Homo sapiens: one gene and its partners. The protein of the gene in region 1 interacts with the protein of each later gene in a pairwise test. Each region holds a gene or a part of one and is shown on either strand. Other genes may lie near its edges. The genes, in order: CPT1B, GOLT1A and TEX44.

Region 1 (4,221 bases):
TAGGGCAGAGCAGAGGAAAGAGGGATTGGGGAAGAGGCAGATTTATCAAGCTGCAGGGAAGGTGGCTGTGGAGAGTGGAGTTAGGACAGTGGGGGAGAAGTTAAAACTGTAGGGATTGGCCAACCTGGGTGAGGGGATCCAAGCAGTGCTAGACATGCTCTTGAATGCCCCTCCTTTTCCTGCCCTCCCCCCAGGTATGCTCTGGCATCCCATTTCTTCTGGGGTCTGTGGTCCATCCTCCAGGCATCCATGTCCACCATAGAATTTGGTTACTTGGTAAGTGACCCTGGGGATGGGAATGCTAGCTGGGGGGCTGGGGAGCAGCAGCAGCCACACTCTTCCAGGAGGCCTGGGGAGTCCCGGGTGGCTGTGGGCAGCCTGAGGTGGATGTAGAATGCTGGTCCCACGTCTTCTCACCACTGTGTGGGGTGGGTTTCCTTCCCTAGGACTATGCCCAGTCTCGGTTCCAGTTCTACTTCCAGCAGAAGGGGCAGCTGACCAGTGTCCACTCCTCATCCTGACTCCACCCTCCCACTCCTTGGATTTCTCCTGGAGCCTCCAGGGCAGGACCTTGGAGGGAGGAACAACGAGCAGAAGGCCCTGGCGACTGGGCTGAGCCCCCAAGTGAAACTGAGGTTCAGGAGACCGGCCTGTTCCTGAGTTTGAGTAGGTCCCCATGGCTGGCAGGCCAGAGCCCCGTGCTGTGTATGTAACACAATAAACAAGCTTCTTCTTCCCACCCTGTCCTGGCCCTGCTGAGCAGCAGCAGAAAGTACCAAACCGAGCAGTACACACAAAGGGACTCTTCAGTGCTCTGGGATTGAAAGTGGTTAGCGTTCATGCTGCCAGTTGGGGTCCCCCATCCCTCCCCAGTCCCCTGGCTGCAGCTTAGAATAATAAATACTAGGACTTGGGGAGGAGGAGAGTGATGGGGGTATGAAGACGACCCTGAGGTGGGGATGCCGCCCGGAGCACCAGCGATCCCAGAACAGGCAGCAGCTGACACATCGGTGACCTTTTCCCTACATTTGGCTATTTTTAGCTCTAAAGCCACCATCCTCACGAGACTCTGGGGCCCCCCAGGCTCCCAGACCTTTGAGCAACCTTCACCGCACAGAAACCCAGCCGCGCCCTGCAATTCCCACCGCGGAAGGTGGGTGGGTTCTGGTTCTCGCCCCACGTTTTTCCCCGACCCCGATTTGGGAGTAGGTGTCAGGTTCCTGGTGAGGGCGGGGCGGGGGTGGCTAGGCCTGAAGGACGTGGGGACACGGGCCAGAGTGGCTGGCCCCACGCACGGACAGGAGTGAACCCGAGCTGTGAGTAGGGGCCGGCACAGGGCGGCCCGCGGGGGTCTGGGCCCTCAGCCCTGCACAGGGGCGAGGACGGCGCTGGGGCCCGCGCGCTCGGGTGGGGAAGGGCGGGCTCCCGAACCCTGCCTCTGTCCAGGCCGGCTCCACTTCCAGGGGCGCCTCTCTCCCCTGCCCGCGCCCTCGCTGACGCCCCCCAACTCCAGGCTGCCCTTCGCCGTCCTTGGGGCTCCTGGAGCTTTCAAGGCCCAAATCCCCTGCACCACAGTGGCTGTGCCCACCCGGAAGGCTGGCGCGAGGATTTGGCGGCGGTTGGCCTGGCGGGGGGCGCGGGCCGGGGGCAGCCGCTAGTCGCGGGGTGGGGGGCGCGAGGGGTCGCGGACTGGCTGGGGGCGTCTCGGCGCGGCTGGCGGCGGGGCCGGCCTAAGCGCGCCCGCGCACCCATCTGCCCCCGTCCTAGGTGCCGACCAACCCCCAGGATGGCGGAAGCTCACCAGGCCGTGGCCTTCCAGTTCACGGTGACCCCAGACGGGGTCGACTTCCGGCTCAGTCGGGAGGCCCTGAAACACGTCTACCTGTCTGGGATCAACTCCTGGAAGAAACGCCTGATCCGCATCAAGGTGCGCACAGGTGCTTCTCCCAGAGCGTAGGCAGAGGCCGGCTGTCAGCTGTTAAGCGCTTTGTTAGGGTCCCTCACTGCCTCCTTGGCTGGCACTTCTGCCCGGTACAGGTTGTGGAAGTACAGACACCAGAGGGGTGCACAGGATGTGGTCGGACACAGGGAGCTGTGGGTGTGGCGGAGGAAGGAGCACAGCAGGGCATCAGGAGAGAAAGCCTTCCAGGCCAAGACCAGGAGCCAGTTCCCAAGACTTCACAGGCAGGCTAACCTCCCGCCTTCCGGCTCCATAAGGGCGCCTGTTTCTGCCCACAGAATGGCATCCTCAGGGGCGTGTACCCTGGCAGCCCCACCAGCTGGCTGGTCGTCATCATGGCAACAGTGGGTTCCTCCTTCTGCAACGTGGACATCTCCTTGGGGCTGGTCAGTTGCATCCAGAGATGCCTCCCTCAGGGGTAAGGAGTGAAACTGGAAGGGCACAGGTGCCACCAGGGAGGGCTGGGCCCAGCTCCCAAGGCTGAGGTTCCTGAGCTGGGCAGATACAGGACAGCAGCCATTGGCAGTCACGGGGCAGCCCTCCCCTATGACAACCATTGTCTTAGCCCTACATCCGCTCATTTGATGCAGTCAGACATGAGTGTGCCCAGGGAGGTTCTTCCCCTTGGTGTCTCCCCTGAGACAGTTCACAGCCACCCGAGGCTGGCCTCAAGAGGACCCCCTGCAGCCCTTGCCCCTCTCCAATAGGTGTGGCCCCTACCAGACCCCGCAGACCCGGGCACTTCTCAGCATGGCCATCTTCTCCACGGGCGTCTGGGTGACGGGCATCTTCTTCTTCCGCCAAACCCTGAAGCTGCTTCTCTGCTACCATGGGTGGATGTTTGAGATGCATGGCAAGACCAGCAACTTGACCAGGATCTGGGCTGTGAGCAGCAGCCAGTGGAGGGGTTCAGGCACCTGGGTTGAGACTCTTTGGACTCCTTTGGGGTTCTGAGCTAGACGGGAGAGGCAGACAGGGCACTGGTGCCTGGTGTGTGGTTTGTCCTGGAGGGGCTGGGATGGCTCTGAGGGTCTCAGGGAGTTGCTGGTTGGTTTCCATTTTTTCCACTGGCTCCCACCCCAGCACTCTGCTCTGTACCCCCAGATGTGTATCCGCCTTCTATCCAGCCGGCACCCTATGCTCTACAGCTTCCAGACATCTCTGCCCAAGCTTCCTGTGCCCAGGGTGTCAGCCACAATTCAGCGGGTGAGGGCCTCGCTTGGGCATCCCAGTGGGCAGGGGAGGTTGGATTCAGGAGATGTTTCCAAATATAAGGTTCTGTGCAAAGAGTGGCCTTAAGGGCTTGAGAATAATGGGGCTGGGTGAGGAGGGAGAGGTGGGAAGAGGATTAAGATAGAGGCAGCCCTTGCCATCTGGCCCCACGGTGATGATAACTGGCTGGACAGTACCTAGAGTCTGTGCGCCCCTTGTTGGATGATGAGGAATATTACCGCATGGAGTTGCTGGCCAAAGAATTCCAGGACAAGACTGCCCCCAGGCTGCAGAAATACCTGGTGCTCAAGTCATGGTGGGCAAGTAACTATGTAAGTTCCTGCCCCTGGGCTCACTGTCACCTGCCATGTGTCCTGGCTGCACCCGCCCCAGCTCTAACCTTCCACCTCCCCACAGGTGAGTGACTGGTGGGAAGAGTACATCTACCTTCGAGGCAGGAGCCCTCTCATGGTGAACAGCAACTATTATGTCATGGTATGAACTAGAGCCCCCAGGTCCCCGCACGTGCTCAGCTCTGTCCCAGCTCCAAGGCAAGGGATCTGGAGGACAGCCCAGAGCTCTAGTAGCAGCTTCCGTGGGCAAGTGGGGGTTATGGAGTGAGGCCTGAGGGAAAGGGAAGAGAGAGAGGAGATCCTAGAAGAGTCCAGAAGCAGCTTAGGGGCAATGGGGATCCTAAGGATGAGGAGAGTGGAGACCGCCAGCCTGCCACCGCTTCTCAGAGTCCCGGGGTCACTGCCCCTGCCCAGCTCGGGCTCTGTCACCTCTTTCCTTGGTTTCCTCACTGGCCTCCTGGCCATGGGTTCCCAGCTGTCCTGACACCATAACCAGGGAATTGTCTAGAACGTGTCTTGCTTTGTGTCCCTCTGCAGAGCCGGACAGCAGAATGGAGGCCAGGCTGCTGCTTTTAGAGCTCAGGAAGTCAGTCTGCCTCTGCCCCATGTAACTGGCCCTTCTGAGTCTCTGGGTCTCCCAGCCACCTGGGCTGTATGGCATGCCTCTTCTCTCCTTTCCCACGGTCCAAAGCACAC
Region 2 (3,647 bases), on another chromosome or scaffold:
GAGCTGTAGCTGATTTCTGGAGCAAGAAAGACATTGAACCTGGCTTTTCTTAAAGTGAGCCACAAAATGGGGAGTCAGGGAAGCCTGGCTTGTCCGTATCGGGTGGCCATGGGCTCTTCTTGGCAGCAACTCGGGAGTTGCAGAGCAAGGAGCTAAACAAGGGCACCAGTGCAGCCATCAGTGTACCTTGCCAGGGAGATCTAAAGCTGGTCTCTGAGGTCTGGGGAGGTCTCCACTTCTAGGTGGCGCCTGGAGAGCCGGGCCTCCCTGAAGTTACCTTGGCCTCCCAGCTTTTTTCGGCTGGGTGTAGGCGTGACAGCCCTGGCCGCCTCCAGCAGAGGGCGCGCTGCCCAATCTGTCTGGATCACGGGGACCGTGCCGGGCAGGCACACCTGTCACTCCTGGGGGCATCTGTATGACATCCCCACCCCTCCACTCTTTCTGCCATGGTTGCTGCCTGAAAAGAACTTTAGGAGTAACCTCTGGCTGGATAACTTGACTAAAATAGCTAAGCTACTCCAGAAGCAAGAGGCAAAGGCGGGTCTGAAGCTTGTGTGTGAGAAACAGAGTTTCTGACCCTTTTCTGTGGGGTTTCGTGTCCCACTGAGCACTGAGAGCACTAAGTGTGGCCCATAAAGAAGGCTGCCCCCATCACAGGAGAGTCCTGGAATTGCATCTGCCCTTAAAGAAGAGTGTAGAACAGGTGGAGGAGGGATAACTATGGCAGCCAGCAAATCACTGCTGCAGAAGAAGAAGGAATAAACAGGAGAATGGACATCATGTGTGAATGTGAGAAACTTACGCTGTTTCCACAAAATGAGTATGAGGCTGTTCTTAAGTGTGTGCAGGATGAACATATAGAAAGTTCAACAAAACGAAATGAAAACCCCGTAAAATGTGCACATCGTGTTTCCACACAAATACACCTACTGAGGGGGAGGAAAGGGTGTATAGTCAGAGCTGAAATCAATGACAGATGTTTTTATGGCAGGCATAAGCCAACAACAGATATTTTATAACAAGCATAAAAACCTAAAACACTTTTATCATTTGGGTTAAAGAAAGATGACTGTGGTCTTCCTCCACAATATTCTGACCTACACGAAATTATCTTGGTAATTCAGGTAGATGTAACTCTAGATTCTCAATGTGTTGTCTCTGAGGATGGAAATGTTGACAAAACACAACCTTCATCATGACCCATGGGGGTGATATTCTGCTGAGCTGTCCCAGCTTCTAAGAGATTTAATTCAGGCCAGCAGGAGGAGGTAGAAGTAGGAAACAAGCCCAAATAGATCACGAGGCTTGTCAGGAACACAAGGAATCAGCTTTTAGTAGAAAATGGATTCTGGGCAGCTGGGTGATATGTTGAGAGAAATTATGTTACACTGGGTCCCAACAAAATCCAGCTTCTGCCAAAAGTGAGATCCAGTAAGACTGGCATGATACCAGACTATGAGTTGAGCAAGGTTTCAGTCTATAATTTGAATGCTAGATCTTATCACTGTATTTTTCTGTTTTCTTTTTTTTTGAGATGGAGTTTTGCTCTTGTTACCCAGGCTGGAGTGCAGTGGCATAATCTCGGCTCACTGCAACCTCCACCTCCCGGGTTCAAGCAATTCTCCTGCCTCAGCCTCCCACGTAGCTGGGACTAGAGACGCATGCCACCATGTCCAGCTAATTTTTGTATTTTTAGTAGAGACGGGGTTTCACCATGTTGGCCAGGCTGGCCTTGAACTCCTGACTTCAAGTGATCCACCCACATCAGCCTCCCAAAGTGCTGGGATTACAGGTGTGAGCCATTGAGCACCTGGCTTCATTGCTGTATTTTTGATGATTCTTTTAAAGAAGCTCTTTGACCTTTTTTCTGTATTGGAATTGATCCTAATCCTCTTAAAATCTGCATAGCAACAGATGATGGATTAACTACCCAGAAGATGATTATGTTGTTTCATTTTCTTTCAGTTGTAAATAAAACTCAGCCAGTAAATCTAGTCTTGATAATTTTGTTTTTGTTTTTACAATTCTGCCTCTAAACACCAGAATAATTTTTCCCCTCACTTTTAACAACTATCTGCAAAAGCATAATAATAATACCAATTTCATAGAGGTTATGAGAACTGATTCTAACAAGTCCAGTAAAATTTTTGACGAGGGCATCAAGACCATGAAATGGGGAAAGAACAGTCTTTCCAACAGATAGTGCTGGGAAAACTGGATATCCACATGCAAAAGATGCAGGTGGATCCTTACCTTATACTATCTGCAAAAAGTAACTCAAAGCAGATCAAAGCCCTAAAAATAAGAGCTAAAACTATAAAACTCTTAGAATAAAAAATAGGGGAAAGCATTACAGCACTGGATTTGATAATGATTTCTAGGTTATGACATGAAAAGCACAGACAACAAAAGAAAAAAAAGACATCAATCAGACTACATCAAAATTTAAAACTTCACCGCATCAAAGGACACAGTCAACAGACTGAAAGGTAACCTACAGAGTGGGAGGAAATATTTGCAAATCATACGCTACATAGTTAATATCCAAAATATATAAAGAACTCCTACAACTCAACAACAAAAAGAACAACCTGTTTAAAAAATAGGCAAAGGACTTAACTAGACAATTCTCCAAAGAAGATATACACATAGCTAACAAGCACATGAAAAGATCATTAATCATTAATCATTAGGGAAATGTAAGTCAAAACCACAATGTATACTACCTTATACCCATTAGCATGGCTGCTATCAAAACAAAACAAAACAGATAAAGTATTGGCAAGATGTGGAGAAATTAGAACTCTTGTGTACTGTTGCTGGGAATGTTAAATGGTGCAGTCACAATGGAAAACAAAATGGCAATTCCTCAAAGAATTAAAAATAGAATTACCATGTGATCCAGTATAATTCCGTTAATTCCACTTTGTGGGGTATATACCTGAAAGGATCGGAAGCAGTGTCTTGAAGAGATATTTTCTTATGCTCATATTTATGGTAACACTATTTACAATAGGTAAGAGATGGATGGAAGCCACCCAGATGTCCATCAACAGATGAATGGATCAACAAAATGCAGGGTACAGATAGCAATGGACTATTATTCTGTTTTAAAAAGGAAGAAAATTCAGACACATGCTACAACATGAAGGAACCTTGAGAACGTTATGATAAGTGAAATAAGACAGTCACAAAAAGACAAATATTGTATGATTCCACTTATAGGAGGTTCCCAGAGTAGTCAAAAATTCATAGAGAAAGTAAAATGGTGGTTGTTGGAGGCTGGTGGGAGGGGAATGGGGAGCTACTGTTTAATGGGTGTAGAGTTTCAGCTTTGCAAGACGAAGAATTCAGGAGATGCGCTTAATACCACTGAACTGTACATTTTTAAATGGTTAGATGGTAAGTCTCATTTTATGTGCACGTTGCCACAATTTAAAACTTAAAAAGGTAACAATTTAAAAACAAAGCAACAGAATGAATTTTTATTTATTGACTATCATAGTGGCAAAGATAAGTAAAATGAACAATTCTGAGTGCTGGAGAGGGTTAAGGAAAAAAGGAACTATATATCCGGTTATTGTACAAATCGTCTTGAGGGGAGCGATCTGAAATATGTTTATCAAAATGTCAAAAATGTAGCCCTT
Region 3 (3,448 bases), on another chromosome or scaffold:
ATGCCTGTGTGTAAACTGAGTATACTAGTAGAACCGTACCTACCCAGAGGTGATGGGTGATGAGAAGGATGCTATGCGCCCTTTTCTGCCCATAAGCAGTCACTAAATGTTAGCTGATAACCCCTGGAGAAGCACAGACACGACCGACTGAGCCTTCCTCTCCAAACATCTTCTTAATGTAGGCATTTTTTTTTTTTTTTTTTGAGATAGAGTTTCGCCCTTGTTGCCCAGGCTGGAGTGCGATGGTGCGATCTCGGCTCACCACAACCTCCGCCTCCCGGGGTTCAAGCGATACTCCTGCCTCAGCCTCCCGAGCAGCTGGGATTACAGGCATGTGCCACCACGCCCAGCTAATTTTGTATTTTTAGTAGAGACGGGGTTTCTCCATGTTGGTCAGGCTGGTCTCAAACTCCTGACCTCAGATGATCTGCCCGCCTCAGCCTCCCAAAGTGCTGGGATCACAGGCATGAGCCACCGTGCCCAGCTAAGCACAAGTAGGTGTATCTGGGGTTATCCTTCTCCAAGAAACACTCAGAGGTCTGCAGACCTTTTGTTATTCTCTGCCCTTCTAGTCCAGATGAGCAAGGAGAAGATAGAGATTTTTGCCCTACATCAAAAGGGTTAAACCCACAGCCACAAATGGAGCTGCCCAGGCCCTTGGCTTTTGCTTATACCTACTCACCACTGCTGGGAAACTGATTCCCTGCAGGAACACTGACTAAATTGGGGGTGGTTATTTGTTGTTGTTTGTTGTTGTTGTTGTTTTGTTTGTTTATTTGTTTTGAAACGGAGTACGCTTTTGCCCAGGCTGGAGTGCAATGGTGCGATCTCGGCTCACTGCAACCTCCACTCCCTGGGTTCGAGCAATTCTTCTGCCTCAGCTTCCCCAGTAGCTGGGATTACAGGTGCACGCCAATACGCCCGGCTACTTTTTGCATTTTTAGTAGAGACAGGGTTTCACCATGTTGGCCAGGCTGGTCTCGAACTCCTGACCTCAGGTGATCCCCCCACCTCAGCCTCCCAGAGTGCTGGGATTACAGGAGTGAGCCACCATGCCCAGCCTAAATTGGGGTCTTGAGGCACCAGTGTAGACAGAGAGGTGCCAGGAGGGGTCCCTTATAAACACTGTTCTAAATCAACATCTGCATCCCTTCTCATTTGTCAGAGTCACAGCTGTCACTCCTCCTGTGTCCCTGTGGTTGTACTTGCCCCTGTGCACACGCCTCCAGCCCTTTCAAGAACATTTGTCATTTTTTCCCTATGTACCTGCAAAGTTGGCAACAAACTGTCCCATAGACTTAGCCCACTTGGAAGGCTGCTCCAGAAGCTCAAGACCCTTGCTCTATGGGTACCTGTGACATCACCAGTGGCCACAGTCCCTTGTGACCTCACCACTTGGACAACTCAGCCCAGCTGGGTTGCAGCCACTCCCTCCAACCGCCACAAGCAGCAAAGGGCATAGATGACCACAGGAGAGCCCTAGGGGGAGGCCGGCTCCACCAGCAGCCCCATACATGGCACTCCCAGGGTACCCCCTGGGCAACGTGGATGACAGCAGGTCTAAGGACAGCCCAGCAGGAGAGCCCCAAGGTCAGGTCCCACTCACAGCAGATGTCTTGGCAGTGAGCAGCTCTGTCGCATCCACTGACTGGCAGGATATAGATCAGGCCTCCTTCAAGACGGCCACCCCCAGGGCCATATCAACATCTGGAGACAAAGACAAGAGTGCAGTTGTTCCAGAACACGGCCAGAAGACACCCAGAAAAATCACACCTCTGCTTCCCAGCCAAAATCCAAGTCCCCTGCAAGTGTCTATGAGCCTTCAGAATCCAGCGTGGGACAGGCAGGTTCAAGACGCAAGGACAAGTCAGAGTCTAGTGGTTTTCCCAAGTCACCTCCTGGGTAAAGACAAGATGTCACAAATGGCGAGTGTTCCTGAGAGAGAGCCGGAGTCAGCCCCCTCTGCCCCGAGTGCTGAGCTACAGTCCACCCAGCACATGGAGGCTCAGCCCGTCGAGAGTGATGCTGACCATGTCACAGCAGGTGCCAATGGCCAGCATGGCCCTCAGGCTGCCAGCACCACCAAGTCTGCTGAGGAGAAAGCTGAGCATCCAAAGGCCCCACACCCTGAAGCTGAAGCTTTACCATCTGATGAGTCCCCAGTGGCAATGGGGGCAAATGTGGTGGACAGCTTAGGAGACCTGCAGACTTGGTTCTTCCCTCCACCTCCAGCAGGCAGTGTGTCCCCGTCGCCTGGCCCCCACGAGGTGGCCCTGGGGAGAAGGCCCCTGGACTCCAGCCTGTACACGGCCAGTGAGGAGAACAGCTACATGCGCTCCATGACCAGCCTGCTGGACAGGGGCGAGGGCTCCATCAGCTCCCTGGCAGACATCCTGGTGTGGTCCGAGACCACCATGGGCATGGCCATAGCCACAGGCTTCCTGGATTCCGGCCACAGCACTGTGGCAGACCTGCTGCACAGCTCGGGGCCCAGCTTGCGCTCGGTCCCCAGCCTGGTGGGAAGCGTCAGCTCGGCCTTCTCCTCTGGGCTGGTGTCAGGGACCAGCTCAGCCCTGCGCACCATCACCCGTGTGCTGGAGACAGTGGAGCAGAGGACCGTGGAGGGCATCCGCTCAGCCATGCGCTACCTGACCAGCCACCTCACCCCACGCCAGGCCCAGGCTGACCCCAACTATGATTAGAGCCCTGCACAGGGACCCCCGAAGGGCTGGTTCAGTGGCCTCCAGAGATCCCTGGGACCCTCACGCCCTGCTCCCTTGCCCATTCTTGCTCTGGACGGTTCCCCCAGCCCATGCAATAAATCACCAGTGAGCATTTATTTCTAAGCACCAGCCTCCTCCCTTGGGGTGCAGTGAGCAACACGGTGACAGGACAGGAGGGCTCGGGGTGCGGTGGAAACAGCGTCCCCTGAGGGTTTCTCAGGCTGTCCCATTCAGGGGCTGGGGGCAAACGTGCAGAGAAGAACCTGGACAGAGCTGGAGGCAGTGTGGCGGGGGGTGTCTCAGACCTGCAAAAACCCATCCCTACTGAACCTCCACCCAGGTAAGCTCCTGAGGAGCCTTCCCAGGGGCCTAGGCTGGCCTGGCGGGCTCAAGCTGAGAGGCAGAAGAGGCAGTGCAGTTGACAGTACTGAGTCACACCATGTGGGTTCAAACCCCAGCGCCAGCACTTGCCCTGGGCGAATCACGTCACTCTCAGCCTACTCAGCTGTAGAAAGGAGAGAATAAATCCATACCATGACACTGTTATAAGACAGAAGGGAAGCGATGCAGGCCATAATGCATGGTGTCTGGCACTTGATAAGCCCACACATGGTGGCTGCCATTATCATTATCCTCCGGTGAGCTGGGGGTGCAGAGGGAGCAGGAGTCTAAGCAAACCGACTGTCCTGGTTTGCCTCAGACTAAGGGGGTTTCTGGGTTGTAGG

The links.
Region 2: the proteins of CPT1B (region 1) and GOLT1A interact in binary tests that used the Homo sapiens proteins (3 or more experiments, as listed by UniProt).
Region 3: the proteins of CPT1B (region 1) and TEX44 interact in binary tests that used the Homo sapiens proteins (3 or more experiments, as listed by UniProt).

What each region holds. Positions count from the first base shown.
Region 1 is NC_000022.11:50,575,481-50,579,701, reverse strand, and holds the start of CPT1B (carnitine O-palmitoyltransferase 1, muscle isoform), read left to right. Parts: upstream 1-1,274; 5' UTR 1,275-1,316; intron 1,317-1,684; exon of another isoform or gene 1,685-1,767; 5' UTR 1,768-1,786; coding exon 1,787-1,927; intron 1,928-2,238; coding exon 2,239-2,378; intron 2,379-2,667; coding exon 2,668-2,845; intron 2,846-3,064; coding exon 3,065-3,166; intron 3,167-3,366; coding exon 3,367-3,504; intron 3,505-3,589; coding exon 3,590-3,667; intron 3,668-4,221. Other genes in the region: CHKB (choline/ethanolamine kinase), read left to right, coding at 195-276, 447-521. UniProt on the Homo sapiens protein: Catalyzes the transfer of the acyl group of long-chain fatty acid-CoA conjugates onto carnitine, an essential step for the mitochondrial uptake of long-chain fatty acids and their subsequent beta-oxidation in the mitochondrion.
Region 2 is NC_000001.11:204,203,955-204,207,601, reverse strand, and holds part of GOLT1A (vesicle transport protein GOT1A), read left to right. Parts: intron 1-3,647. UniProt on the Homo sapiens protein: May be involved in fusion of ER-derived transport vesicles with the Golgi complex.
Region 3 is NC_000002.12:231,591,438-231,594,885, forward strand, and holds TEX44 (testis-expressed protein 44), read left to right. Parts: upstream 1-1,426; 5' UTR 1,427-1,514; coding exon 1,515-2,702; 3' UTR 2,703-2,839; downstream 2,840-3,448.